Linked DNA regions of Homo sapiens. The main gene of each other region encodes a partner of the protein of the gene in region 4 in a complex. Each region holds a gene or a part of one and is shown on either strand. Other genes may lie near its edges.

Evidence for each region.
Region 1: NUP188 (region 4) and NUP107 share a complex: the UniProt entries of both Homo sapiens proteins name them as parts of the nuclear pore complex.
Region 2: NUP188 (region 4) and RANBP2 share a complex: the UniProt entries of both Homo sapiens proteins name them as parts of the nuclear pore complex.
Region 3: NUP188 (region 4) and NUP205 share a complex: the UniProt entries of both Homo sapiens proteins name them as parts of the nuclear pore complex.

The regions. Positions count from the first base shown.
Region 1 is NC_000012.12:68,689,969-68,696,992, forward strand, and holds part of NUP107 (nuclear pore complex protein Nup107), read left to right. Parts: intron 1-634; coding exon of another isoform or gene 635-662; coding exon 663-778; intron 779-1,999; coding exon 2,000-2,144; intron 2,145-6,850; coding exon 6,851-6,954; intron 6,955-7,024. UniProt on the Homo sapiens protein: Plays a role in the nuclear pore complex (NPC) assembly and/or maintenance. Required for the assembly of peripheral proteins into the NPC. May anchor NUP62 to the NPC. Involved in nephrogenesis.
Region 2 is NC_000002.12:108,778,458-108,785,481, reverse strand, and holds part of RANBP2 (E3 SUMO-protein ligase RanBP2), read right to left. Parts: intron 4,214-7,024; coding exon 4,053-4,213; intron 3,355-4,052; coding exon 3,081-3,354; intron 2,955-3,080; coding exon 2,620-2,954; intron 1,887-2,619; coding exon 1,581-1,886; 3' UTR 1-1,580. UniProt on the Homo sapiens protein: E3 SUMO-protein ligase which facilitates SUMO1 and SUMO2 conjugation by UBE2I. Involved in transport factor (Ran-GTP, karyopherin)-mediated protein import via the F-G repeat-containing domain which acts as a docking site for substrates.
Region 3 is NC_000007.14:135,553,344-135,560,936, reverse strand, and holds the start of NUP205 (nuclear pore complex protein Nup205), read right to left. Parts: upstream 3,021-7,593; 5' UTR 2,993-3,020; coding exon 2,965-2,992; intron 1-2,964. UniProt on the Homo sapiens protein: Plays a role in the nuclear pore complex (NPC) assembly and/or maintenance. May anchor NUP62 and other nucleoporins, but not NUP153 and TPR, to the NPC.
Region 4 is NC_000009.12:128,943,610-128,950,705, reverse strand, and holds the start of NUP188 (nucleoporin NUP188), read right to left. Parts: upstream 3,008-7,096; 5' UTR 2,987-3,007; coding exon 2,955-2,986; intron 1,518-2,954; coding exon 1,463-1,517; intron 1-1,462. Other genes in the region: DOLK (dolichol kinase), read left to right, coding at 3,403-5,019. UniProt on the Homo sapiens protein: Component of the nuclear pore complex (NPC), a complex required for the trafficking across the nuclear envelope. Required for proper protein transport into the nucleus.

The DNA.
Region 1 (7,024 bases), on a different chromosome or scaffold from region 4:
CCAGGAGTTCAAGACTAGCTTGGCCAACATGGCAAAACCCTATCTCTACTAAAAATACAAAAATTAGCTGGCGTGGTGGCACATGCCTGTAATCCCAGCTACTCCGGAGGGTGAGGCAGGAGAATTGCTTGAACCCGGAAGGCAGAGGTTGCAGTGAGCTGAGATTGTGCCACTGTACTCCAGCTGGGGCGACAGAGCAAAAAAAAAAAAAATCCCAGTTCCATTATTTACATACTCTTTTTTTGTTCTGAGACAGAAAAAAAAGAGTATGTAAATAATGGAACTGGGATTCAAACAATGATCTGTTTACTCCAAAGTTTATGCCCACTACACTGCACTGCCTCAGTATGCCTTATAAAATTAAAATATGAAGAATCCGTTGACTGATTAGTGTCTTTAACTGCTCAGTTATTCTATAATGAAAGCATCTGTAATTGCAGTAAAATGTTTCCTGTTAGGCTCAGTAGTACCTACAGCTCAAATTTAGAAAAATAAGTTAAATCCTTGTATCATGGAAATGTTAACATTTAAAGTATTTATTTGGTTAGAGTCTAAATAATGGAAAACTGAAAAATTTATTCTTCATTGTTTGTTTGCTTACTTTGTTTTGATAATGAATGCTCACGCACTTTAGGTTCTTTCTACCAACCTTTTGTTTATAGTTACCCCAACAAGCCGAAGCTTACTAAGGCAGCCAGATATTTCCTGCATTCTTGGAACAGGAGGGAAGTCGCCCCGACTTACGCAGTCTTCAGGGTTCTTTGGAAATCTCTCCATGGTATGTAGAAAAATAGGGCTAAGAACTCCTTTTGGGTCGAGTGTGGTGGCTCACATCTGTAATCTCAGCACTCCCTGAACTCCTGACCTCAAGTGATTCTCCCGCCTTGGCCTCCCAGAAGTCAGGAGTTTGAGACTAGCCTGCTTAGCATGATAAAACCCTGTCTCTACTAACAATAAAAAAATTAGCTGGGAGTGGTGGCTTATGCCTGTAATCCTAGCTGCTCGGGAGGCTGAGGTGTGAGAATTGCTTGAACCCAGGAGGCAGAGGTTGCAGTGACCTGTGATTGCAAAAGAAAAAAAAAAGAGAAAAAAGAACTTCTCCCTTTTTATAAAAATATGATATTTGATGTAAAAGTCTTTTAACAAATATTGAGTCAGAATCATCATAACAGTAACTTTAGGTTATATGGATTGAAATAATTAGACAGTAAAAAAACTGAAAACCTTATGCATCTGATATCACAGATGGAAACTGTGACACCAGCAACCTTTAGATGAAAATAAGATGTTTTAATCTGTCAGTTTGCTGACCAGAAGAAGTACATGCTGTGGTTGGTTGCTGATGGCTATAAAATCTGATCCCTGTTTTGAAGCATACAAGAGTAGGAATCAGAGGTTAACAGATGAAGAATATCTTAAGGAAGAGATAAAATGTATTAAAGGGGATAAAAGAGAAAATTGGAAAAAGTAGGTGAGATACTCTTTAGGAATCACTATGGAACAGTATTAAAAATAGCAAAAGAAATGTTATGTAAGCTGTGATGCAGAATGACTTCACCTAAGTATTAAAAATACACTATAGTAGCCGGGCATGGTGGCTCACATCTGTAATCCCAGCATTTTGGGAGGCTGAGGCAGGTGGATCACATGAGGCCAGGAATTTGAGACCAGCCTGGCCAACATGGTGAAACCCCATACCTACCAAAAATACAAAAATTAGCCAGGCGTGGTGGCACGTGCCTGTAGTCCCAGCTACTTGGGAGGCTGAAGTGGGAAGATGGCTTGAGCCTGAGAGGCAAAGGTTGCGTTGAGCCATGATCGTGCCACTGAACTCCAGCCTGGGCAACAGATCCAGACCTTATCTCAAGAAGGGAAAAAAAAAAAAAAAGACGCATACATACATATAATTTTTAGAAACCTTATTTGTTTTTAAAGTATCCACTCAGTGACAATAACTCCATCACTTTTCTGTATTTTTACTTTTTTGTTTTTTTTTAAGGTTACTAATCTGGATGACAGTAACTGGGCAGCTGCATTTTCATCACAGCGTTCCGGGCTGTTCACAAACACAGAGCCCCACAGTATAACAGAAGATGTAACTATCAGTGCTGTTATGTTACGTGAGGATGATCCTGGAGAAGCTGGTAAAATGGCATTGAGCTTTGTGACAAGTAGCTTTTCACTTTAGCAAGATGAAGGAAACCATTTCTTCCTGTTTCTGAACGTCATTATGTTTTTCTTTTCTTTCTTTCTGTCTTTTTTTCTTGAGAGAGTAGCTTAAACAACAGATTTTTGTGTGTGTGTTTTTTGAGACAAGAGTCTCACTCTGTTGCCGGGCGCGGTGGCTCATGCCTATAATCCTAGCACTTTGAGAGGCCGAGGCGGGCAGATCACGAGGTCAGGAGTTCAAGACCAGCCTGGCCAACATGGTGAAACCTCGTCTCTACTAAAAATACAAAAATTAGTTGGGTATGGTGGTGCACACCTGTAATCCCAGCTACTTGAGAGGCTGAGGCAGGAGAATCGCTTGAACCCGGGAGGCAGAGTTTGCAGTGAGCTGAGATCGCACCATTGCACTCCAGCCTGGGCTACAGAGCAAGACTCCGTCTAAAAAAAAAAAACAAAAAAAAAAACAGTCACTCTGTCACCCAGGCTAAATGCAGAAATGCAGTGGCACAATCATGGCTCACTGCAGCCTTAACCTCCCAGGCTTAAGCAATTCTGCAGCCTCAGCCTCCTGAATAGTTGGGACTGCAGGCATGTACCACCATGCCTAGCTAATTTTTTTTTTTTTTTTTTGAGATGGAGTCTCGCTCTGTCACCCAGACTGGAGTGGAGTGATGGGATCTTGGTTCACTGCAACCTCCGCCTCCCAGGTTTAAATGATTCTCCTGCCTCAGTCTCCAGAGTAGCTGGGATTATAGGCGTCTGCTACCACACCCGGCTAATTTTTGTATTTTTAGTAGAAACGGGGTTTTGCCATGTTGGCCAGGCTTGTCTCAAACTCCTGACCATGGGTGATCCACCCGCCTTGGCCTCCCAAAGTGCTGGGATTACAGGTGTGAGCCACTGCGCCTGGCCGCCAGCTAATTTTTTATTTATTTATTTATTTATTTATTTTTTTTTTTAGACGGAGTCTCACTCTGTTGCCCAGACTGGAGTGCAGTGGTGCAATCTCGGCTCACTGCAACCTCTACCTGCTGTATTCAAGTGATTCTCCTGCCTCAGTCTCCTGAGTAGCTGAGATTACAGGTGCCCACCACCACGCCTGGCTAATTTTTGTATTTTTAGTAGAGAGAGGTTTCACCATTTTGGCCAGGCTGATCTCGAACTCCTGACCTCAAGTGATCCGTCCTCCTCAGCCTCCCAAAGTCCTGAGATTACAGGCGTAAGCCACTGTGCCCAGCCTAATTTTTTATTTCTTTATAGAGACAGGGTCTACAAAGACCAGCCCAGGCTGGTCTCAAACTCCTGGACACAAGTGATCCTACCGCCTCAGCCTCTCAAAGTGCTGGGATTATAGGCAACAACATAAATTTATTTTCTCACAATTCTGGAGCCTAGATGTCTGAGTTAAAGGTCTTGGCAGGGTTGGTTTTCTCTGAAGCCTCTTCTCTTGGCTTACAGATGGCTGTCTTCCTCCTGTGTCTTCATCTGGTCTTCTGTCTATAATATATTTTTCCTTAAGCTAATTAGTTGTGGTTATGGCAATGGTATTTGATACAGTATCACTAGAAGGTTGAGAACCTCACCTTGGTTCTCAGTCTGAGCAGCATCTTGCCATTTTATCTTTTAATGTAAATAGCAGCCTGTTACGTTATTAGACAAGTCTCATATTGTAATTTTTTTCTTATTTGTGCTGTTGAAAGAGCATCTCTTTCTTTAGGTTTAGTTCTTAATCTAACATTGTTGATGTGTTTTGTTTTCTCCTGGACCGTAATGCTGTTATTTTTTTTCAGATAGTGTTATGACCACTGTACAAGCATTAACTCATGTAATCCTTATGGTGGTCCATTAAATAGTTACAATAATTATTCCCATTTTAGAGAAAAGGAAACTACTGCTCAAAGTGGTTAAGTAACTTACCTCAAACCACCTGGCTAGGAAGTAGTGGTACCAGGATTTGAAACTAAGCAGTTTAGCTCCAGAGCCCTGCTCTTAACACTTTGGTAACTACTACTTTCTTGTAGTATCTGTCAAAAACAGGTACTCGTATTAAGTGACTCAAAATACTTTCTACTTAGGCCAAGTGCCTGTATTTTCCCAGAGTGGAACATGCCATTTAGTATGTATTATAACTTTCTCCACTACTTTGTAATGGTGTGCTTAAAATATAATTCAGATATTTTTAAATCTGGCTCAATTTCTTAAGTAATTGTTTATAAAATAACTAGTATATCTTTGAGATCTTAAAAGACCTTTAGGTATCAAAAGAAAAAATAGATAAATTGGGCTACATCAAAATTTTAAACTTTTGTGCACGAAAGAATACAATCAGCAAAGTGAAAAGGCAACCCACAGAATGAGAGAAAATATTTGCAAATCATATATCTGCTTAGGGGTTAATATCCAAAATGTATAAAAACTGCTACAACTCAACAACAAAAAAACAACCCAATTTAAAAATGAGCAAAGAAATAGAATAGACAGAGGCTGGACGCAGTGGCTGATGCCTGTAATCCCAGCAATTTGGGAGGCTGACGCGGGTGGATCACCTGAGGTTGGGAGTTCGAGACCAGCCTGACCAATGTGGAGAAACCCTCTCCCTACTAAAAATACAAAATTAGCTGGGCATGGTGGCGAATGCCTGTAATCGCAGCTACTCGGGAGACTGAGGCAGGAGACTCGCTTGAGCCCGGGAGGCAGAGGTTGCGGTGAGCTGAGATCATGCCATTGCACCTCCATCCTGGGCAACAAGAGCGAAACTTCATCTCAAAAAAGAAAGAGAGAAAGAAAGAAATAGAATAGACACTGTTCTAAAGAAGATTCACAAATGACCAGTAAGCACATGAAAATATACTCAAATGTCACTAATCATTAGGAAAATCCAAATCAGAACTACAGTGAGTTACAAGATACTGCCTTACACCCGTTAGTGTGGCTACTGAAAAACAAACAAACCAACAACAAGAACAAAAACCCAGAAAATAACAAGTATTGACAACAATGTGGAGAAATTCAAATCCTTGTGCACTATTGGTTGGAATGTAAAATAGTACAGCTGCTATGGAAAACAGTATGGCAGTTCCTCAAAAAATTAAAAATAGAATTACCATATGATCCAGCAAACCTGCCTCTGGGTATATATCCAAAAGATTGGAAAGCAGAGTCTCAAAGAAATATTTGTACATGCATGTTCATAGCATGATTCATAGTAGCCAAAAGGTAGAAGCAAGCCAAGTACCTGTTGATAGATGAATGGGGGAAACAAAATGTGATCTATACATACAGTGGAATATTATTCAGCCAAATATGAAGGACATTCTGACACATGCTACAACATGGATGAACCTTGAGAACATTATGCTAAGTGAAATAAACCAGTCACAAAAGGGCAATACTCTATGGTTCCACTTACATGAGATATTTAGAATAGTCAACACATGTAGGGACAGAAAGTAGATGGATAGTTGTCAGGGGCTGGGGTAAGTGGAGAGTGGGGAGTTAATGTTTATTAAGTACAGAGTTTCAGTATTACAAGATGAAATAGTTCTGTGGATACATAGTGGTGATGGTAGCACAACAATGTGAATGTACTTACTGACACTGAACTATACACTTAAAAATGATTAAGCCAGGGATAGTGGCTCATGCCTTTAATCCTACCACTTTGGGATGCTGAGACAGGAGTTAGCAAGACCCTGTCTCTACAGACTAATAAAAAATTAGCTGGGCATGGTGGCTGGTATATACCTATAGTCCCAGCTACTGGGGAGGCTGAGGTGGGAGGATCACTTGAACCTAGGAGTTTGAGGCTATAGTGAGCCATGATTGCACCACTGTACTCCAGCCTAGGTGACAGAGCAAGATCCCCCTCTCTTAAAAAAAAAAAAAAGAAAAATGATTAAGATAAATTTTATATTATGTGTATCTTGCCAATTAAAAAAAATTTTGAGGCTGGGTGCGGTGGCTCACGCTTATAATCCCAACACTTTGGGAGGCCAAGGTGGGCGGATCATGAGGTCAGGAAATCAAGACCATCCTGGCTAACACAGTGAAACCTCGTCTCTACTAAAAATACAACAAGTTGGCTGGGCATGGTGGCACGCACCTGTAGTCCCAGCTACTTGAGAGGCTGAGGCAGGAGCACCGCTTGAACCTGGGAGGTGGAGGTTGCAGTGAGCTGAGATTGCGCCACTGCACTCCAGCCTGGGTGACAGAGTGAGACTCTGTCTCAATTTTTTTTTTTTTAATATAGCAGTGAATTTATAAAAGACTTGTAGCCATTTAAATTTTCAAACAGGCTGGGTGCGGTGGCTCACGCCTGTAATGCCAGCACTTTGGGAGGCTGAGGCGAGCAGATCACCTGAGGTCAGGAGTTTGAGACCAGCCTGGCCAATATGGTGAAACCCCATCTCTACTAAAAATACAAAAATTAGCTGGGCATGGTGGTACATGCCTGTAATCCCAGCTAGTTGGGAGGGTGAGGCAGGAGGATCACTTGAACCTGGGAGGTGGAGGTTGCAGTGAGCTGAGACCGTGCCATTGCACTCCACCCTGGACAACAAGAGTGAAACTCCATCTCAAAAAATAAATAAACAAATAAATACATTTTCAAACAAACGGAATTACCTAGAAGTACGTCACTTAACTTTTCTTTATTCCTTTTTTTTTTTTTGATGTGTTCTAGCATCCATGAGTATGTTTTCTGATTTCCTGCAGTCTTTTCTGAAGCACTCTTCGAGTACAGTTTTTGATCTTGTGGAAGAGTATGAAAACATCTGTGGTAGTCAGGTAAGCTAATTTCACTCCGTCGTTAGTCAAACTTCAGTATTTTTAGTTTTCATAAACAGCATTAACCTAA
Region 2 (7,024 bases), on a different chromosome or scaffold from region 4:
AAGCACTTGCATTAACTTAAGAATTTATTCTAAAATCATGACGAAGGCATCAACTGTCTCAGCTGAAAAGTTACAACACACTTTACATCAGTTTATATTACATAGATTTCCAAATAAGCCAATTTGAAATATTTAGTGTAAACATATGTAATCCATGGTTCAAGACTGAACTGATACATTTGGAGTAGGTTTATTTCAAGTATCTGGCTTTGTGGCCGAGTGGAATGGTGATGGTATACCATCACTCATTACTCGCACAACATCCCTCCCCTCTTTTGACTGGTGGTTGAACAGTTACTTGCTTTAGGATACCCAATTTCCAAATCCCCATGTAACAGGGAATAAACCTGTCTTTCCTCACTAAATAAAATGAGGTAATTTCACCCGAAAGAACACAGATGGGTGGAAGACAGTCAATATTCATAATTGCAATATACAAAATTTTGTGTTCTACCTGGATTCTTTGTAGTTCCATATTGAGTAGGCCAATAAGAACATCCTCTTTTCTTTAGCAATTTGCCTAACATTTGATACAAGCCATTTCCAAATACGTTTTTGGTGTGTATCAAACTTGAGAAACTAGGAGCTCTGGAAATTATGCAGCAGTTTGAATTTACTGCCTTTAAATTGTCTTCCTTACTTTAGAATGAACCCGAAGCGTAAGTAATGAATTTTTTGGATGTCAGTGGCTCTTAGGAATTGTCATTTTATTTCTGCTACAAAATTTACCAGAAAAAGGTACTGCAACAATCTTGTATAAAGCAAATCTTTAACGAAAGAACATGGTATAGACTTTCTAAAAATATTCATACTTTATCACAATAACTACAAGGAAAAATTCAATTTCTATCATCAGAACCAAGCTGCAGTTTCTGAGGTAGTAGAGACAGATGACAGAAAAGTTTGAAACAAAACCCCTAAAGGAAATAGTCAACTTGTTTAAAATGTAAAAATTAATCGAATATCTATGAAAGGGCACAGGAAGCTAGATATTTTAAGGAAGGAAGGTACGCTACTTACAAAGTTAACTTGTAACCACACAGGAGGTGTAAAGATTCTAGAGAAGAGCACTTTGGTTAACTCTATACGTTCTGTGGCTCTACCCATTCATAAACGAGTCTCTATGCATAAATGAGTACACCAATAGTTAAGATTACCAAATATATTTCAAACCTAAAATTAAATTATCCAAGTTGTGGTCCCTTTATTCAAATGGTAAGTATATCCATGCAGGAAGTCCAAATATCTTAAAAGGAATTAAAATTAAATTGCATATATCATATTCCTTCAATAGTTTGAGGTCTATTGCTTTTAACAAGATTAGTATTATTCCATTTTAATACGTCAGGAGTACATAAACACAAGTACACCTGAAATACACCAGTGTTTAAACTTTTATTTCACACCATGCAAGGTCAATTATAACACATTAAAAAGTGACAACAGCTATAAGCTGCAATTTTACATTTGTAAATCGGAAACGTCCATTTTCAAAAGCTGAACATAACTATCAAATTGTAATAGCTAAGCTTCAATCCAACTGCTTATACAGATGAAATTTTCTATGAACAACAATGATTTTATATCTGTCCACATTCTGTGATAGTTATTCTTCGACAAACAGACCCTTTGGGAGAACCAAATGATTCAATCTTTTTCACAGTATCCATGCCATCCTTAACAAACCCAAATACTACATGCTTAAAGTCCAAATGTTCTGCTTTCTTCAGTGTTATAACAAATTGAGAATTATTGGTATTCTGGCCTTGATTGGCCATGGATAGTAAACCAGGACCAGTATGTTTCACATCAAAATTTTCATCTTCAAATTTGTCTCCATAAATGGACTGTCCGCCTGTTCCATCATGTTTGGTGATATCTCCTCCCTGAAAAAAAGATTTATAATAAAAAAGTTAAAAATTTTTTTCAATTAATAGGAATCCTGAGTAAAATATTAAAATACACACAGAACTCATCACTACATGTTAAATCCTAAAGCCCAGCTTTCCTGAGTATAGTTTGAAAACTAAGAAATTCATATTGTTGGAAAGAAGATGAAAAATGAAAAGGTTTTTCCCATCCCTTAGTTTCTACTAGATCTCAAGTACTGAAAATTTGATTTTTTTTTTTTTTTTTTTTTTTTTTTTTAATGACAGGCTGTCTCACTCTGTCGCCCAGGATGGAGTGCAGTGGTGCAAACCTAGCTCACTGCAGCCTTGGCCTCCTGGATGCTCCCACCTCAGCTTCCTTGTAGCTGGGATCACAGACGCACACCACCACACCTGGCTAATTTTTGTATTTTTTTGTCCAGACGAGATTTTTGCCATGTTACCCAGGCTGGTCTCAAATTCCGGGGCTCAAGCAATCTGCCTGCCTTGGCCTCCTAAAGTGCTGGAATTACAGGTATGAGTCATTGTGCCCAGCCTCAATTATTTTAGGTTGAAAGTTTTAGGCAGGAGCAGGGAATGGGTAGTGATGCCATGTGATTCCATGTGTGGAAAACCTAAAGAAATCTTTAACAAAACTACAGGATGAGGTCAAGGAAAAACACTCAAATTTCCCATTAGTGTGGTGCACTCTTCAAGACCTCAATTGTGGTATGTACTTAATAATACCTACTTGGCAAACAAAATCTGGAATTACTCTGTGAAAAATGGAATTCTTGAAACCAAAGCCTTTCTCTCCAGTGCATAGTGCTCTGAAGTTCTCAGCAGTCCGAGGAACAATGTTTGAAAATAATTCCATAGTTATCCGCCCTAGAGGTTCACCGTCCGCACAAACATCAAAAAACACCACAGGATTGGTCTCCTTTGATAATTCTGCTGCCAGTGATACATGTCCTTTCTGGAGTTTCATTAAATTCTGCTGACATTCTTCAAATGTTTTCTTGAAACAATCAGCTACTTCTTTAGTTTTAAATCTCACTGCAAGCTGTTCTACTTTTGCTTCTCCATCTGGCAGGGAGGGAAAGGGGAAGCAGTGACCTTAGTATTAAAATAACTGTTATAAGTTGTTTTGTTTGTTATAGATTTTAGAAAAGTCCAAAAAATGAAAAGTAGCATTTGAATGTAAAAACTCACCAGCATAATCTGAGGCAGTCCAAACTAAAGCATTATTTGAAACATTTAAGGGCTTTAATTCCATTGTTTTAGTAATAACGTGGTTTGCACACACTTTAAAAACCTGGTCTCTTCTCATTAGGATCCGGTAATAATTCTTCATTGTATGCCAAAGAATCTTTATATCTCCAACACCGCGCTCCTTCCACTGACTGACATCCCGATCCCATCTATAAAGTTTGGCTCTCTCTTTAAACAAAATTTCTTCATCTTCTTCTCCAGATTTTACTTCTACCTATAATAGGAGATGAAATTCTCTATAAGCTGCTGCTTATAATAAATTCCATGACAAATTTCAAAGATCCAAATTCTTTTAAGGCATTTTCTTTGTGATGACAAAGAGAATTTGTTAATGTGATAACTGGTTATATATCTTAGGGCTAGGAATATATCTGATTTGGCTGAGGGAGTAAAGACCTGATTTATCATTAAACATTTTCTTTTATATAATATTCATTTTCCCTTTGGAAATTAAATGCTTTTCTTTATAGGACAGAGAGGTTTCAAAAGTGTTTGCTACTGAAGAGAAATATTAGCTACTGACTGAGGTTAAAAAATGACAAAGTAATTTTCCTAGAACAATGTTCTTGTCCAAAAAACATACAAGGTTAACATTTATTGAAAGGACTTTAGTGAGTATGAGGTTAATTTTTCCCCAGAATCATGTTATAAAAACAAACATGATATTCTAGAAACATAAGAAAAAATTATTTCTTACCAATAATTACATATAGAATTTACAAACCAATATTTATGTAAAAACTGTAAAAAGATAATTTATACTTAAAGGCTAGACATCTAATAAATAGAGCTTCCATTTCAAACAGTAAACATTCTTAAATGCAAACAATTATACCCTGACAGATCAAGCCAGGGTAAAACTTAAAAATGAAAAATAAGTTATTAGTAAAAGGTTAATTCCTTAACATTTACCTCTGGTAGTGACACTATTGGTTCAAAATGGATATCTTCATTATGAACTACTTCTTCATCACTACCATCTTCATCTTCACCAACTTTACCGGCTGACTGGGTTCCGACTGACTGTGTTCCAAACACAGCTGCTCCAGTATTTGCCCATTGGAAATTTTTATCTGATGAATAAATCAGGATATTTAAACACTAGTATCTATTTTTTACATTTTTCATCCCCCTCTTATTTTATCAATCCCTCTAATTCCTGATGATGTAATATGTACATCAATTTTAAATGTTTAAAATTATATTATTCTAGTAAATTCCTCACGCCTGTAATCCCAGCACTTTGGGAGGCCGAGGTCACCTGAGGTCAGGGGTTCGAGACCAGCCTGGCCAACATGGTGAAACCCCATCTCTACTAATAATACAAAAATTAGGCTGGGCGCAGTGGCTCACGCCTGTAATCCCAGCACTTTGTGAGGCCGAGGTGAGCGCATCTCCTGAGGTCAGGAGTTCAAGACCAGCCTGACCAACATGGAGAAACCCCGTCTCTACTAAAAATACAAAATTAACCAGGCATGGTGGCATATGCCTGTAATCCCAGCTACTCGGGAGGCTGGGGCAGGAGAATCGCTTGAACCCAGGAGGCGGAGGTTGCGGTGAGCCAAGATGGCACCATTGCACTCCAGCCTGGGCAACAAGAGTGAAACTCCGTCTCAAAAAAAAAAAGAAAGAAAGAAAGAAAAGAAAAGCCGGGAGTGGTGGTATGCGCCTGTGGTCCCAGCTACTTGAGAGGCTGAGGCAGAAGAATCGCTTCAACCTGGGGGGCAGAAGTTGCAGTGAGCTGAGATTGCCCCACTGCACTCCAGCCTGGGCAACAGAGCAAGATTCTGTCTTTAAAAAAAAAAAAAAAAGTTAGCAGTGTGTGGTCATGGGTGACTGATCCCAGCTACTCAGGAGGCTGGGGCAGGAGAATCACTTTAACTTGAGAGGCAGAGGTTGCAGTGATCAGATACCGCCCCACTGCACTCCAGCCTGGACGACAGAGCAAGACTCTGTCTTTAAAAAAAAAAAAAAAAAAAAAATTAGCCGGGCGTGGTGGCGGGTGCCTGTAATCCCAGCTACTCAGGAAGCTAAGGCAGGAGAATCGCTTGAACTTGGGAGGCGGAGGTTGCAATGAGCAGAGATCGTGCCATTGTACTCCAGCCTGGGTGACAGAGCAAGACTCTGTCACCAAAAAAAAAAAGGAAAAAAAGGAAAAAAAAAAAAGCTAGTAAATTCAACTCATACTGTTGAGTACAGAGTACATTTATTATTGTTATGCTTAGCGATACAAAGATAAGACTGTCACTGCCTTGGATAAACTTCCTAATACTAAACTACACAAGGACTTCCAAGTAAAGAAGTAGGTTCTTTTTACCTACTTCTAAAATTTCAAGTACCCACCTTGAAATTTTGTAAACTTAGCTCAGCAGGCCAAACCTGCTACTTCCAAATTAGCCACAATGGCCTAAACATGTTTATAATTTCTGCATCTCTACTTCTTCCTGAAGAAGCTAATGCTGGAATGTAGATTTCTTGGTTGGGCTGGTGGAAAGCAGCCTTGGGAGAATCTCACTGACTTCAACTGCCCAAAGGGTATTAGATTGTTAAGCATCCTACTTCTGTATGGGGGAACAATGATGGTCTCACTCTCGCATACCTGCAAGAAGGTGAAAACTAGAAACTTCTCCATCCCATACCTCAATTTAGATGACCAAGTCCCCACTATCTTAGAGGAAAGAAACACCTCTCAACTTTTTATCACTTGCTGAATCACTGTCTTAAAGAACCCTACACCTTCTGCTAAAAACTCTCATGAAAAAGAAAAAATGTCACAGGATACATAACTCAGTACCTTAAAGAACACAATAAAAAATCAACTCTCTTTCAGACAGATTTAATGGAGGGGAAAAAAAAATGTTTTTAAAGAGGAGAGAGGGCCGGGTGTGGTGGCTCATGCCTGTAATCCCAGCACTTTAGGAGGCCGAGGCGGGCTGGTCACTTGAGGTCAGGAGTTCGAGACAAGCCTGGCCAACATGGCGAAACCCCATCTCTACTAAAAATACTAAAAGAATTAGCGGGGTGTTGCAGTGCATGCCTGTAATCCCAGCTACTCAGGAGGCTGAGGCAGGAGATCACTTGAACCTAGCAAGCAGAGGTTGCAGTAAACTGAGATCTGCGCCACTGCACTCCAGCCTGGGCAACAGAATGATCGTCTCAAAAAAAAGAGACAGAAAGACAAAAATTCTTAAGGACATATTGCAAAGGAATGATCTGAGAACAAAAGCCACAGGTTGCATGGGAACTTCCTGAGAACAGTAACCACTGATCTGGATGAGATACCAACTTGGGGGCTCAAAAATAACTGTTCAGGGCCAGGTGCAGTGGCTCATGCCTACAATCCCAGCACTGTGCAAGGCCAAGGTGGCAGGACTGCTTGAGCCCAGGAGTTTGAGACCAGCCTGGGTAACATAGTGAGACCCCTGTCTCTACAAAAAATGTAAAAATTAGCTAGGCATGGTGGTACACACCTGTGGTCCCAGCTACTTGGGAAGCTGAGGTGGAAGGATTGCTTTAGAGCCCAGGAGGTCAAGGCAGCAGTGAGCTGTGTTCATGCCACTGCACTCCAGCCTGGGCAACAGAGTGACATCCTGTCTCAAAAACAAAAACAAAAACAAAATTGTTCAGCAACTTTTTTGCCAAAAGCAAAAATTTAAAAAATAACCCCAAGGGACATGTGGCAGAAGAATTCAAAATTATTTCAAAATAGTGGTTCTCTACCCTGGGAACACATTAGAATCACCCACTTGTAAAAGTATTTGTAATATATCAATATCTGGGTCTCACAGGTCATAACTGGGCCTACAGTAATGTTACTGTAAGTGAATAATTAATTTGGCAAGCTTTGAGACATTAGAGAAAATAAGATTGAAACTCTAAATTAT
Region 3 (7,593 bases), on a different chromosome or scaffold from region 4:
GTACAGTTCAGCAGTGTTCAGTGTATTCACATTGTGCAACAGATCTTCACAGCTTTTTTCATCTTGCAAAACAGAAACTCTATGCCCCCTAAACAACTCCCCACTTTCCCCTTTCCCAGCCCCTGGCAACCACCATTCTACTTTCTGTTTCTATGAGTATGACTACTTCAGATACCTCATATAAGTGGAATCATGTAGTATTTGTGTCTTGTGACTGGCTTATTTCACTTAGTATGTCCTCAAGTTTCATCCACGTTGTTTTATGTGACAGGATTTCCTTCCTTTTTAAGGCTGCATAAGGATACTATATATATGCATGTATACGTTATGTTATGTATATGCATGTATATGTATTATGCATATTGCATGTATATGACACATTTCCTTTACCCACTCAACCCAACATTCATTCCTTGATGGAAAAAGAGTTCCTTCCCTAAGACGTTTAGTTTTTTAAAAAACCAGCTCCTGACTCTTGGCTTTTAAAAATGTTTCCTATGTTGCCAATTAAACACTCCTGACACAAGGCTTTATTATACAATGTACACTCTTTGCTGCTGTTGGCAACTCCTTTTCCCTCCAATGATTTGTTTAATAATTATAATAGCTTAGGGCGAGTATGTACTAAAGGAATGTATATAGGCCAGGCACAGTGGCTCACGCCTGTAATCCCAGCACTTTGGGATGCCGAGGTAGGCGGATCACCTGAGGTCAGGAGTTTGAGACCAGTCTGGCCAACATGGTGAAACCCCGTCTCTACTAAAAATACAAAAAAAATTGGCCAGGCGCAGTGGCTCACACCTGTAATCCCAGCACTTTGGGAGGCTGAAGGGAGTGAATCACGGGGTCAGGAGCTCGAGACCAGCCTGGCCAATATGGTGAAACCCCTTCTCTACTACAAATACAAAAAATTAGCTGGGTGTAGTGGCGGGCGCCTGTAATCCCAGCCCCTCGGGAGGCTGAGGCAGGGGAATCGCTTGAACCCAGGAGGCGGACGTTGCAGTGAGCCAAGATCGTGCCACTGCACTCCAGCCCGGGCAACAGAGTGAGACTCCATCTCAAAAAAAAATTAGCCAGGCTAGCCAAGCATGGTGGCGGGCGCCTGTAATCCCAGTTACTTCAGAGGCTGAGGCAGGAGAGTTGCTCCAACCCAGGAGGTGGAGGCTGCAGTGAGCCGAGATCACGCCACTGCACTCCAGCCTGGGTGGACAGGATGAGACTCCATCTCAAAAAAAGAAAAAAAAAAAAAAGGAAAATAAATGTGTATACCTTGCGTACTGGCTCACACCTGTAAACCTACCACTTTGGGAGGCCGAGGCAGAAAGATCGCTTGAGGACAGCAGTTCGAGATCAGCCTAGCCAACATGGAGAAACCCCACCTCTACTAAAAATACAAAAATTAGCCCAGCGTGGTGGCACATGCCTGTAATCCCAGCTACTCAGGAGGCTGAGGCAGGAGAATTGCTTCAACCTGGGAGGCAGAGGTTGCAGCGAGCCAGGATCGCGGATCGCATCACTGCACTCCCGCCTGGGAGACAGAGCAAGACTCCATCTCAAAAAGAAAAATTAAAAAATAAAATAAAATAGAGAAATGTATTATATACAACCACACGTTAAGCATATCTAATTGGGAAGGAAGGACCGCAATATTAAGCATGTAACTTCATTACTAACCTTCTAATATATACGTCTAATATCATAAAATGAATTAGGTTGTGCTTAAGCAGTAGCACTAAGTAGTTTAAGCACCTAAGACTGACTTAGATCATTAGATGTTTAACTCTGGGGACATTACGTAACTATTTGAAGCCTCTATTTCCAAATCTGTAAAACGGAGTATGTAACAGTAACTACTCCAAAGGTGTATAAACGGGAACTGAATGAGATAAGCACGATAATAAGTGCAATGCTGGGATATAGTATGTGTTCAGTAAACATAGCCTTCATTATAATTTATCATAGCTTTTCTGAAATGATTTGATTTACAAAACAGATTTAGACAACTTTTCAAGAATATCAGTCCTGTGGAAAATAGAACCAATACTTTAAAAAAGAGTCCTTTTAAGTGAGATTCTCACAAGCATTTACCACACAGATATACTCTTAATCTTGCCCGCGAACTTCAGAGCATCTCAATCGAGGCATTAACATTCTAGGCACCAAATTATTTTTCCGGACTGCTCTGACCATGAAGGACTTTCTGCATCCTTGCCCCGCCTACTATGCGACAGCAGTGTACCCCAGGAAATATGACAATCAAAATGCACTCACTCATTCAAACACCACTGGAGGGCGGTACGGCCCGAATTGAGAATCACCGAAAGAGGATCCACCCCAAATCTTCCAGAGTTCCTTTACTACCTTCTAGATTCAATTCCACCCCGAAAATCTACAGCTCCAAAGGTACAAGAACATCCAGGGCCTAACCACATCCGCAGGGTTAGAAGACGTCTGCTGAAGCCCCGCCACCCTCTTCCTGACCACCTTTCAGATGGCCGACTTCATAATAGGGAGTATTCGCTGCCTGCAAGATCTCCCACCCTATAAGGAACTCCGACGCCTACTTTCAGCCTCTGCTCATGGCTGGAAAATATCTCGGGTCCTCTGGCTTCACTGTGGAAGACCTGATGCGTATTCCAGCGAAATCGGGACCACAGACGCACAGTGAAACTTGGGGGTGAGGGGGACCAGACTCAGCCCTGGGCTGTGAGAGATTACACACCTGGGTCCAGCGGCCCAAGCCTCACTGCCTGGAATCTCAAACCCCAACTCGAGGGCTGGAGCCGCAGCACCGACGCGCGCCATTCAAACTGGGGAGGGGTGGGACTCTAGGCCCAGAATTAGGGAAAAGCAGGCACCGCACATAAGTGGGGTCCTAGACTCCGAGAAACCTCACGGTCTCGTCTCTCCATGAAGACCTGGTTATCGCTCAGCTCAATCGTCTTTCTGTCTGGCCACACTTACCCGAATTTACCGCCAAAGGCGTCGCCATCTTAGAGGCGCACTAACAGAGCCCTTCTGCCGCATGGAGGCCCCGGGAAAGGGTGAGGCTGACCTGAGCGAAGCCTGAACAAAAAGGCACCACACTGTCCCCTCCACGCTGGGCCGTCCCAGGCGTACAAAAGGCTCCAGAATCTGCTCTGGGTCACAAACATCAATTTTCATTGGGATTATTCCCATTCAAATAAGGCGAGGGCAACCACTTCAGAGACACGAGGTCCTCGATCCGACGTTCATCGTGTAGTGCATCCTGGGACTTGTAGTTTCTAATGATGAGTTGGTTAAGTGGAGAGGAAAAAGTAAAGTGGAATAGAAAAAGATATTCTGAGAGTAGTTATTAAAATGACGCCCATTTATGACATTATAAAAGCCGTAAATTCAAATCATTATCTCCGCTTCAAGTTAAATCTTCCTTACAGTGGGGAGTGAAGTAAGGTATGAAGTGTCTACACCTCAAAAAGCCACTGACCGGTTACAAACTAAGTTTCCGTGACATTTCAGTTTACCAAATATATTCTGTCAACATAGTTGCGTAGAGCGAAACAAATCATAATTTTTAATTATAAAATTTTCAAACGGATACAAAATTAGAATAGCAAACACTCAGCATCAATAACGTGGCCAATTTCCCACCACGGCAGCCCCAACCCACCCTTACCACCCCAACACCCTCCCCTCCCCACCCCCCGCCCCCGATTAGTTTGAAACAGATTCCAGACATATCGTTTCATAATCACCAAGTATTTTTCTACCTGAGCACCCAAAGTAGCTGAACTCTTTCTTCAGCTGTTAAATTTTAGTTTGCTGATTTTCAAACTAAAATGTAAATAATCATTGCTATTTACAGCTATGTATTAAGAAAAATTTTATAGCCATTATCTCATTTAATCCCTGCAAACCATTCTATTGGGAAAATGATATGATTATAACTATTTATGTCAGAGACGCTCCATGTGCCTTACAATCTCATTGTATTAACTCTCCATCATTCCCATTTCACTGTTGGAAATCAGAATCAAATAATTTAGACAAAAGCATAGAGTATGTTAAGAATATCCAGAACTGGCAGGGCGCAGTGGCTTATGCCTGTAATCCCAGCACTTTGGGAGGCCAAGGCAGGCGATCACTTAAGGTCAAGTGTTTGAGACCAGCCTGGCCAGGAAGGTGAAACCCCGTCTCTACTAAAAATACAAAAATTAGCCAGGCATGGCGGCACGCACCTGTAACCCCAGCTGTTCGGAAGGCTGAGGCAGGAGAATCCCTTGAACCCGGGAGGTGGAGGTTGCAGTGAGCTGAGATCATACCACTGCACTCCAGCCTAGGCAACAGAGTGAGTGAGACTCCATTTAAAAAAAAAAAGAATATCCAGAACAGAACATTTATTCTTTTGAACAAATAATATCAAGTGACACAATGTACATTAGGTTTGAAACACAAAAATCACTGGTGATTTTTTCTAAAAGTCATTGATATATAGAGACAAATGCCAAACTACGATTAAAGTGGTTTTAAGGAGTGAAGTGGGGAAGAGAGAAAGTAAACGCAAAGGAATTTTTCAAGAAGTTTATCATGAAACTGAGAAGAATACTGAGCAGGAACTTGACAGGAAGCGGCATTCAAAGATTTCTCTCTCAGCACAGCTATTACAAGCCTTTCCCTCTCCACATGCACTTTTTAAGCCCACACGCTTCCCTCTCAGTAGATAACTTTGCTTTCTATAAAGTAACTCTTTAAATTCCAGCAACTCCTCTTCACCTGTCATTACACTTTACAAGCATTCTCTCACAGGCTTCTTCAATTCGTAGCAATTGGGATATTGCCATCATAAGCCCCTCTAAAACTGCGCTTGGTATGTTTACCAGTTATCAGTCATCAAATTCCATGGGCACTTTTCTGAATTATGATAGTTATAGGCCGGGTGCAGTGGCGCACGCCGGTAATCCTAGCACTATGGGACGCTGAGGTGGGAGAATCACCTGAGGTCAAGAGTTCGAGACCAGCCTGGCCAACATGGTGAAACCTTGTCTCTACTAAAAATACAAAATTAGCTGGGCGTGGTGACAGGACTCCTGTAATCCCAGCTACTTGGGAGACTAAGGCAGGAGAATCGCTTGAACCCCAGAGGCAGAGGTTGCAGTGAGCCGAGATCGCACCATTGCACTCCAGCCTGGGTAACAGAGTAAAAACTCTGCCTCAAAAAAAAAAAAAGAAAAAGAAAAGAAAAAGAAAGAAACAAAATTATATTATCCTGTGGCTACTGGGGCACCAATGATACTGGTTTTCCTCCTCTTTCCAGTTCTTTTTTAGTGTTTTACGTGGACTTCTCTTCCTCTTCTACCCACTAAATCTAGCTCTTCCCCTATAGTCATCTCTAGTTTCTGTCCTTTTCATTCTACATGCTTTCTGTGGGACATCTTATGGTTTCTTACTACCACCTGCTTGCTGATGAATTCTGTGTTTGTATCTCTAGTCCAGTCCTCTCTCTTGAGCTTCATATTTGTAGAACCAACTCTCTACTTCATATCTGTATTGATTGCCACACAGGCGTTTCAAAACCAACATGTCTGAAACGTAAATGATCACTTTTCCCCTAAAACTCTGCCACCTGTATCCCCACCCAGTTGCCAAAATCGGAAACCTGGGATTCTTTCTGTATTCTTCCTTCAATTGTCAAATCCTGTTCATTCTACCTCACAAATATTTCTGGAACCCTTTTCCTCTTCTCTGCTTTCTATGCCATTGTTCAAGTCTCATCTTCTTAAACTTGGTATTTTGCAATAGCCTTCTCATTTGTCTTTCTTATTTCCATCTGATCTTCCTTTCATGGACTCCTAAGGTGATTTTTATTTTTTATTTTATTTTATTAATTTATTTCAAGACACAGTTTCACTCTGTCGCTGGAGTGCAGTGGTGCAATCTTGGCTCACTGCAGCCTCCACCTCCCGGGTTCAAGCGATTCTTGTGCCTCAGCCTCCTGAGTAGCTGGGATTACAGGGGCATTTCACCACACCCGGCTAATTTTTGTATTTTTAGTACATGGCGGGGGGCGGGGGTTTGCCATGTTAGCCAGGCTGGTCTCGAACTCTTAACCTCGGCTTCCCAAAACACTGAAATTACAGGCATGAGTCACTGTGCCCAGCCTGAAAGTGATTTTTAAATACAAAAAAACATGACCGGACACGGTGGCTCACGCCTGTAATCCTAGCACTTTGGGAGGCCAAGACAGGCAGATCACCTGAGGTCAGGAGTTCGAGACCAGCCTGACCAACATGGAGAAACCCCGTCTCTACTAAAAATACAAAATTAGCTGGGCGTGGTGGCACATGCCTATAATGCCAGCTACTCAGGAGGCTGAGGCAGGAGAATTGCTTGAACCCGGGAGGCAGAGGTTGCGGTGAGCCAAGATCACGCCATTGCACTCCACCCTGGGCAAGAAGAGTGAAACTCTGTCTCAAAAAAAAGGAAAAAAAAATATGGCCAGGCGCAGTGCCTCACACCTGTAATCCCAGCACTTTGGGAGGCCGAGGCGGGCAGATCACGAGGTCAGGAGATTGAGACCATCCTGGCTAACACGGTGAAACCCCATCTCTACTAAAAATACAAAAAATTAGCCAGGTATGGTAGAGGGCACCTGTAGTCCCAGCTACTCAGGAGGCTGAGGCAGGAGAATGGTGTCAACCAGGGAGGCGGAGATAGCAGTGAGCCGAGACCGCACCACTGCACTCCAGCCTGGGTGACAGAGTGAGATTCTGTCTCAAAAAAAAAAAAAAAAAAAAAAAAAAAAACACATGATGTGGTTGTTCTGATCAAAATTTCTCAATGATCTTCTATTACTAAGAGTTATTACTAAGAGTATCATTTAAAATCTTCTTAGCAAGGCACTCATGACACTTCCTGATATGGTTCAGCCTCGTTCTTCAGCCTTCCACACTCTTCCTCAAGAGCCCTTTACTCTAATCATTCTGAACTATTTGTTATCCCCAAATACAACATGCTTTCTTTTGCCATGTATCAATGTCTTTGCACCTGCTATTCTGTCCTCCTGGACTGCCCTTCCTTCCCTTCCTTATTCACCTGTGACCACCCACCAAGTTAACCTCCAAACATGATCTGCTCTCCAAGTCTCAGGGCCTGTGTTAATGCTGCCTTCATGATGCTGTCCTTGATCCCCTGCCCCATCAAATTCGGGTGTTTCTTTGCCTGCAGACCTATTGCACTTTTTCCCATCTTTATTACGTCCCAATGTGCTATGACAATTGTCTCCTCACTAAAACTGTTAGCTTCTTGTGGTAGATTGTTATTAAAAGGCCCTCAGTGAATCACAGGTCCCTGAATTGAAGCCATTGTGTAATCATCTGCCACATTGAATCTGGGTTGGCCTTCTGACTTGCTTGGACCAGGAGAATGCAGAGGAAGTGATGTTGGGCACTTCCAAGCCCAGGATTTAAGAGACCTTGTTACTTCCTTTTTGCTCTTTTGCCCATGTAAGGAAACTCGAGCTTGTCTTTTTGAGGACGAAAGACCATGAGGAGAGAGGCCTAGCCAACCCTTAGCCATTCCAGACCCTAGCTGAAATGTTGAACATTAGTGAGG
Region 4 (7,096 bases):
GCCTGGCTAATTTTTTAAAAAATTTTTTGTAGAGACGGGGTCTTGCTATCTTGCCAGGGTTGGCCTTGAGCTTGTGCACTCAATTGATCCTTCTGCCTTGGCCTTCCAAAGTGCTGGGGTTACAGGCATGAGCCACTGCATCTGACCACGTTTATAAAGTTTTAGGAACAAAAAAAAAGTGTTTATACCAGGCACAGTGGCTCATGCCTGCAATCCAAGCACTTTGGGAGACTGAGGTGGGCAGATCACCTGAGGCCAGGAATTCAAGACCAGCCTGGCCAACATGGTGAAACCCCATCTCTACTAAAAATACAAAAATTAGCCGGGCGTGGTGGCATGCATCTGTAATCCCCAGCTCCTTGAGAGGCTAAGGCAGGAATCACTTGAACCCAGGAGACAGAGGTTGCAGTGAGCCAAGATCGTGCCACTGCACTCCAACCTGGGCGAGAGCCAGACTCTGTCTCAACAACAACAAAAAAACGTAGCCGGGTGTGGTGGCTCATGCCTGTAATCCCAGCACTTTGGGAGGCTGAGGCAGGCAGATCACCTGAGGTCGGGAGTTCAAGACCGACCTGGCCAACATGGCAAAACCCTGTCTCTACTAAAAATATAAAAATCAGCAGGGCGTGGTGGTGGGCACCTCTAATCCCAGCTACTGGGGAGGCTGAGGCAGGAGAATCACTTGAACCCAGGTGGCAGAGGTTGAAGTGAGCCAAGATCGAGCTACTTACACTCCAGCCTGGGAGCAAGACACCCCCCTCAAAAAAAAAAAAAAAAAAAAAAAAAGTGGCCGTCACGCCTGTTATCCCAGGACTTTGAGATGCCAAGGCAAGTAGATCACCTGAGGTCAGGAGTTCAACACCAGCCTGGCCAACATGGTGAAACCCTGTCTCCACTAAAAATACAAAAATTAGCCAGGTGTGGTGGCATGCACCTGTAATCTCAGCTACTCGGGAGGCTGTGGCAGGAAAATCGCTTGAACTCGGGAGGCGGAGGTTGCAGTGAGCTGGGATCATGCTGTTACACTCCAGCCTGGGTAACAAGAGTGAAACTCCATCTCAAAATAAATAAATAGGCCAGGTGTGGTGGCTCACGCCTATAATCACAGCAATTTGGGAGGCCAAGGAGGGCAGATCACCTAAGGTCGGGAGTTGGAGACCAGCCTGACCAAAATGGAAAAACCCCATCTCTACTAAAAATACAAAATTAGTCGGGCGTGGTGGTGCATGCCTGTAATCCCAGCTACTCGAGAAGCTGAGGCAGGAGAATCGCTTGAACCTGGGAGGCGGAGGTTGCGGTGAGCCGAGATCACGCCATTGCACTCCAGCCTGGGAAACAAGAGCGAAACTCTGTCTCTAAATAAATAAATGTGTTTACTTCCTACATTTAAAAAAAGGTTTTTTTTGGTAACAAAAGCTACACAAAGAACCCAGAGAACCCACTCAAGAACACCACCACTTACCAGCTCTCTCAGAGCTGACCTTCCAAGCAGAATAGTCCACAGTTCTCTACTGCTCCTGCAAAATGAGAGAACAGAGGTAATTTTGCTCTTTCTGATCATACAAACTTGTACACTGCCTCATAGCCATTTTGTCTGCTCTCTAAAAGCAAAAAATCTCAATATACAAAACGATTTGTTAAATTTTTGGAAAGTAATCTTGTTATATAATAATATTGTTAGGGCCGGGCACGGTGGCTCATGCCTGTAATCCCAGCACTTTGGGAGGTCGAGGCGGGCGGATCATGAGGTCAGAAGATCGAGACCATCCTGGCTAACACAGTGAAACCCTGTCTCTACTGAAAATACAAAAAATTAGCCAGGCGTTGTGGCGGGTGCCTGTATCCCCAGCTACTTGGGAGGCTGAGGCAGGAGAATGGCATGAACCCGGGAGACAGAGCTTGCAGTGAGCCGAGATCGTGCCATTGCACTCCAGCCTGGGCGACAGAGCGAGACTCCGTCTCAAAAAAAAAAAAAAAAAAAAAAAAAAAAAAAAGTGGGGAAAACACTGCTGGCACAGGGAAGGATAAGAGACGGGGATGTTTAACTTTGAGGGAGGGTGGTGGGAAGAACGAAGACCTTCGAGCTGCAATGTGGAAGACAGAAGGAGGCGTGGTGGTCTGGTTATAGCACTGGAGGTACGCAGACTTCAGCTTGAAGGCTCTCTTTATCACTTGGCTAGCTCTGAGCCGGACTTCTGAGTCATCTGTGAAATAGAAGGCGCCTCTCGGAGTTGCGAGAATTGAATGAGATAACTCCTGGGAAGCGCTCCACCAGGGTCTGACGCTAGAAAGCACTTTGTCAGAATTGTAGTTTTCGTATATAATATTTCATCTTCTTGTCCCTAAAGCCTAGTTCAATCCCTGAAATCTCTTGGAGGATTTGGACATGCTGGCTGACTTGATTCAGTGCAAGAAAAGAACGATACGAGGCGCGGAGAGGACAGAAGCCGCAAGCGTGGCTCCGCTCAACGCGAAACAAAATCCTAACAAGAACAGATCGCGGGAGAGGTCGGGGAGCCAGCAGGGCGCACTCGACGCCGGGGCAGGACACTGGGAGCCTGCAGCAGGGACGTGGGTGGGGGGTACCCCAGGAGACCGCAAAGCTCCCCGTGGCTCGAGGGAGCGTCACGGCCGGAGAAGGAAGCGCGGGTGGGGCGCCAAGAGACGCGTCGGAGGTGAGAGAGGAGGAAGGCAAAGGGCCCTGGGTGAGGAGATGGGAGGCCGAGCGCGGAGGGAAGGGGTGAAGAGCCGGCCCCCCTCCTGAAGAAGACTCTTCAGATCCCCGCGCGCGGGGACCGTTTGGACGTAACCGCCTCCCGTCTCGGTGCCCGTCCATCCAGCCGGGGTTGGCCCTGCCACTGTCGCCACATCCCGCCTCCAATTCCCGCCCCGCTTCCGCTCGGCTTTGACACCGCGCTTCACAGCCACCCCGGTCCATTCGACCCGCTCCGCACCTCACACACGGCCCGCCGGCGGCCGCCGCCATCTTCGCGCGCCCGCTCGCCCTAACCCCGCCCCCAGACGCCATGCCCACGTGACCGCTCGCCCCCGGACCCGGAGCGTGGGCGGGGATTTCGTCACGTGACGTTGCCGCGGGGCGGTGCCAAGATGGCGAGGCCCAAAGAGGTGAGGAGCCGGCAGCGGGGGCGGCTGTAACTGTGAGGAAGGCTGCAGAGTGGCGACGTCTACGCCGTAGGTTGGAGGCTGTGGGGGGTGGCCGGGCGCCAGCTCCCAGGCCGCAGAAGTGACCTGCGGTGGAGTTCCCTCCTCGCTGCTGGAGAACGGAGGGAGAAGGTTGCTGGCCGGGTGAAAGTGCCTCCCTCTGCTTGACGGGGCTGAGGGGCCCGAAGTCTAGGGCGTCCGTAGTCGCCCCGGCCTCCGTGAAGCCCCAGGTCTAGAGATATGACCCGAGAGTGCCCATCTCCGGCCCCGGGGCCTGGGGCTCCGCTGAGTGGATCGGTGCTGGCAGAGGCGGCAGTAGTGTTTGCAGTGGTGCTGAGCATCCACGCAACCGTATGGGACCGATACTCGTGGTGCGCCGTGGCCCTCGCAGTGCAGGCCTTCTACGTCCAATACAAGTGGGACCGGCTGCTACAGCAGGGAAGCGCCGTCTTCCAGTTCCGAATGTCCGCAAACAGTGGCCTATTGCCCGCCTCCATGGTCATGCCTTTGCTTGGACTAGTCATGAAGGAGCGGTGCCAGACTGCTGGGAACCCGTTCTTTGAGCGTTTTGGCATTGTGGTGGCAGCCACTGGCATGGCAGTGGCCCTCTTCTCATCAGTGTTGGCGCTCGGCATCACTCGCCCAGTGCCAACCAACACTTGTGTCATCTTGGGCTTGGCTGGAGGTGTTATCATTTATATCATGAAGCACTCGTTGAGCGTGGGGGAGGTGATCGAAGTCCTGGAAGTCCTTCTGATCTTCGTTTATCTCAACATGATCCTGCTGTACCTGCTGCCCCGCTGCTTCACCCCTGGTGAGGCACTGCTGGTATTGGGTGGCATTAGCTTTGTCCTCAACCAGCTCATCAAGCGCTCTCTGACACTGGTGGAAAGTCAGGGGGACCCAGTGGACTTCTTCCTGCTGGTGGTGGTAGTAGGGATGGTACTCATGGGCATTTTCTTCAGCACTCTGTTTGTCTTCATGGACTCAGGCACCTGGGCCTCCTCCATCTTCTTCCACCTCATGACCTGTGTGCTGAGCCTTGGTGTGGTCCTACCCTGGCTGCACCGGCTCATCCGCAGGAATCCCCTGCTCTGGCTTCTTCAGTTTCTCTTCCAGACAGACACCCGCATCTACCTCCTAGCCTATTGGTCTCTGCTGGCCACCTTGGCCTGCCTGGTGGTGCTGTACCAGAATGCCAAGCGGTCATCTTCCGAGTCCAAGAAGCACCAGGCCCCCACCATCGCCCGAAAGTATTTCCACCTCATTGTGGTAGCCACCTACATCCCAGGTATCATCTTTGACCGGCCACTGCTCTATGTAGCCGCCACTGTATGCCTGGCGGTCTTCATCTTCCTGGAGTATGTGCGCTACTTCCGCATCAAGCCTTTGGGTCACACTCTACGGAGCTTCCTGTCCCTTTTTCTGGATGAACGAGACAGTGGACCACTCATTCTGACACACATCTACCTGCTCCTGGGCATGTCTCTTCCCATCTGGCTGATCCCCAGACCCTGCACACAGAAGGGTAGCCTGGGAGGAGCCAGGGCCCTCGTCCCCTATGCCGGTGTCCTGGCTGTGGGTGTGGGTGATACTGTGGCCTCCATCTTCGGTAGCACCATGGGGGAGATCCGCTGGCCTGGAACCAAAAAGACTTTTGAGGGGACCATGACATCTATATTTGCGCAGATCATTTCTGTAGCTCTGATCTTAATCTTTGACAGTGGAGTGGACCTAAACTACAGTTATGCTTGGATTTTGGGGTCCATCAGCACTGTGTCCCTCCTGGAAGCATACACTACACAGATAGACAATCTCCTTCTGCCTCTCTACCTCCTGATATTGCTGATGGCCTAGCTGTTACAGTGCAGCAGCAGTGACGGAGGAAACAGACATGGGGAGGGTGAACAGTCCCCACAGCAGACAGCTACTTGGGCATGAAGAGCCAAGGTGTGAAAAGCAGATTTGATTTTTCAGTTGATTCAGATTTAAAATAAAAAGCAAAGCTCTCCTAGTTCTAGTTTTGCTGATATATTTTTTTTTTTATTTTTTTTTGAGACAGTTTTGCTCTTGTTGCCCAGGTTGGAGTGCAATGGCGCGATCTCGGCTCACCGCAACCTCCACCTCCCAGGTTCAAGCGATTCTCCTGTCCCAGCCTCCTGAGTAGCTGGGATTACAGGCATGCGCCACCATGCCCAGCTAATTTTGTATTTTGAGTAGAGACAGGGTTTCTCCATGTTGGTCAGGCTGGTCTCGATCTCCCGACCTCAGGTGATCTGCCCACCTTGGCCTCCCAAAGTGTTGAGATTACAGGCGTGAGCCACCATCCCAGCCTTGCTGATATTTAAAAAGAAAAGAGTCTTAAGGGATAGTCCAGCAACTCAAAGAACCTGAGTGTGCTATAGAGCCCCCTCTTTCGCCCTGCAGCCTCGGAGGAGGCCAGAGTGGACACTGGAGGGAGTAAAGCATAATGGTTAACACTTTAGTCTCTGGGTCAAACTAATCTGGTCAGAATCCTTGGCTGCACAGCTTCTTACTAACTTTGTGACCTTGAATGGCCAGGCGTGGTGGCTCATGCCTGTAATCCCAGCACTTTGGGAGGCCGAGGCAGGTGGATCACCTGAGGTCGGGAGATCGAGACCAGCCTGACCAACATGGAGAAACACTGTCTCTACTAAAAATACAAAATTAGCCAGGCGTGGTGGCATATGCCTGTAATCCCACCTACTAGAGAGGCTGAGGCAGGAGAATCACTTGAACCTGGGAGACGGAGGTTGAAGTGAGCTGAGATCGCGCCATTGCACTCCAGTCTGGGCAACAAGAGCGAAACTCCGTCTCAAAACAAAACAAAACAAAACAAAAAAACAACTTTGTGACCTTGGGTGAGTCACTTAGCCAGGCTGAACCTCAATTCTCTTGCAGATGGGAGTAATGACAGCCCACACCTCGCGGGGTGTTGTGAGGGTCCAGCCTAGAGCCCACCCTTGATAAGCAGTCAGAAAGGGAGTCATTTTTACCAAAGACCAGTCCTCATCTTAGTGAAAAGCCGAAAAGCTGGGCAAACCACTTGGAAACCAGAGTGACCTTTGCTCTCCTGGCTTCACTTGGAGGTGGAGAACTCCTGAGGGAAAGAGCAGAGGGCTAGGAATTACTGAAGGGAGAGGTGGGTCAACTTTGGCAGGGTTGAGGGAGGATCAGATCCTGCTTGGGCTGGATCTTGTTTTAGCCAACCCCACCCCGCCTCTGGTGTCCCACTGAGTGGTGTCCATAGAGAAAGATGGGCTGAACAGCACCAGGACCTCATCAAGGGGCCCTTCTTAAGACCTTTCCATGTTCTAATCCTATCCAAACCTGTGTTTGTCTTTTCCTAAGGTAGGAAAGATCCACAGGGGCTGGGGGAGTTTCCTGAGAGGTAAAATGACTGTATGAGGGGCCCACGCTGCAGCCTTGCTCTCTGGCTGGGAAGACAGGCTCCGGCACTGCCTCACTCCCCACCCCATCCCCCAAGGCTAGCACAGGGCACTGACAAGGAGCAGGAAATCAGTAGATTTGGGAGTCCATCTGCACTGTGTCCCTCCCAGAATTGTACACTACACAGATAGTGAATGGATAAACATTTTCCGTCACTAGGAAGATAGCACAGCAAGATTCCTGAGGCTGGACAAGGTTCTCCCTTTCTCCCCAAGCTTGGGAGGACATCAGAGGAGGTGAGAGCTTTGGTCCACCAAGGCCAGAAGCCGGGAGCAGAGCTCCAGGGAGCGAAGCTTCTGCTTGAGAATCACTGCCATGTCCTTTCCCTCAGAGGAGAGTATTGAGACATTTCTTTGGGACTCAATGGAGACGCTTCCCTTCTCTTAGGCTCCCTCCTATTGCTTGCAAAAGGAAGCAGCAAAATGTTGGTGAAAGAGCACCAGCTTTGCCCCACGGACTCCCA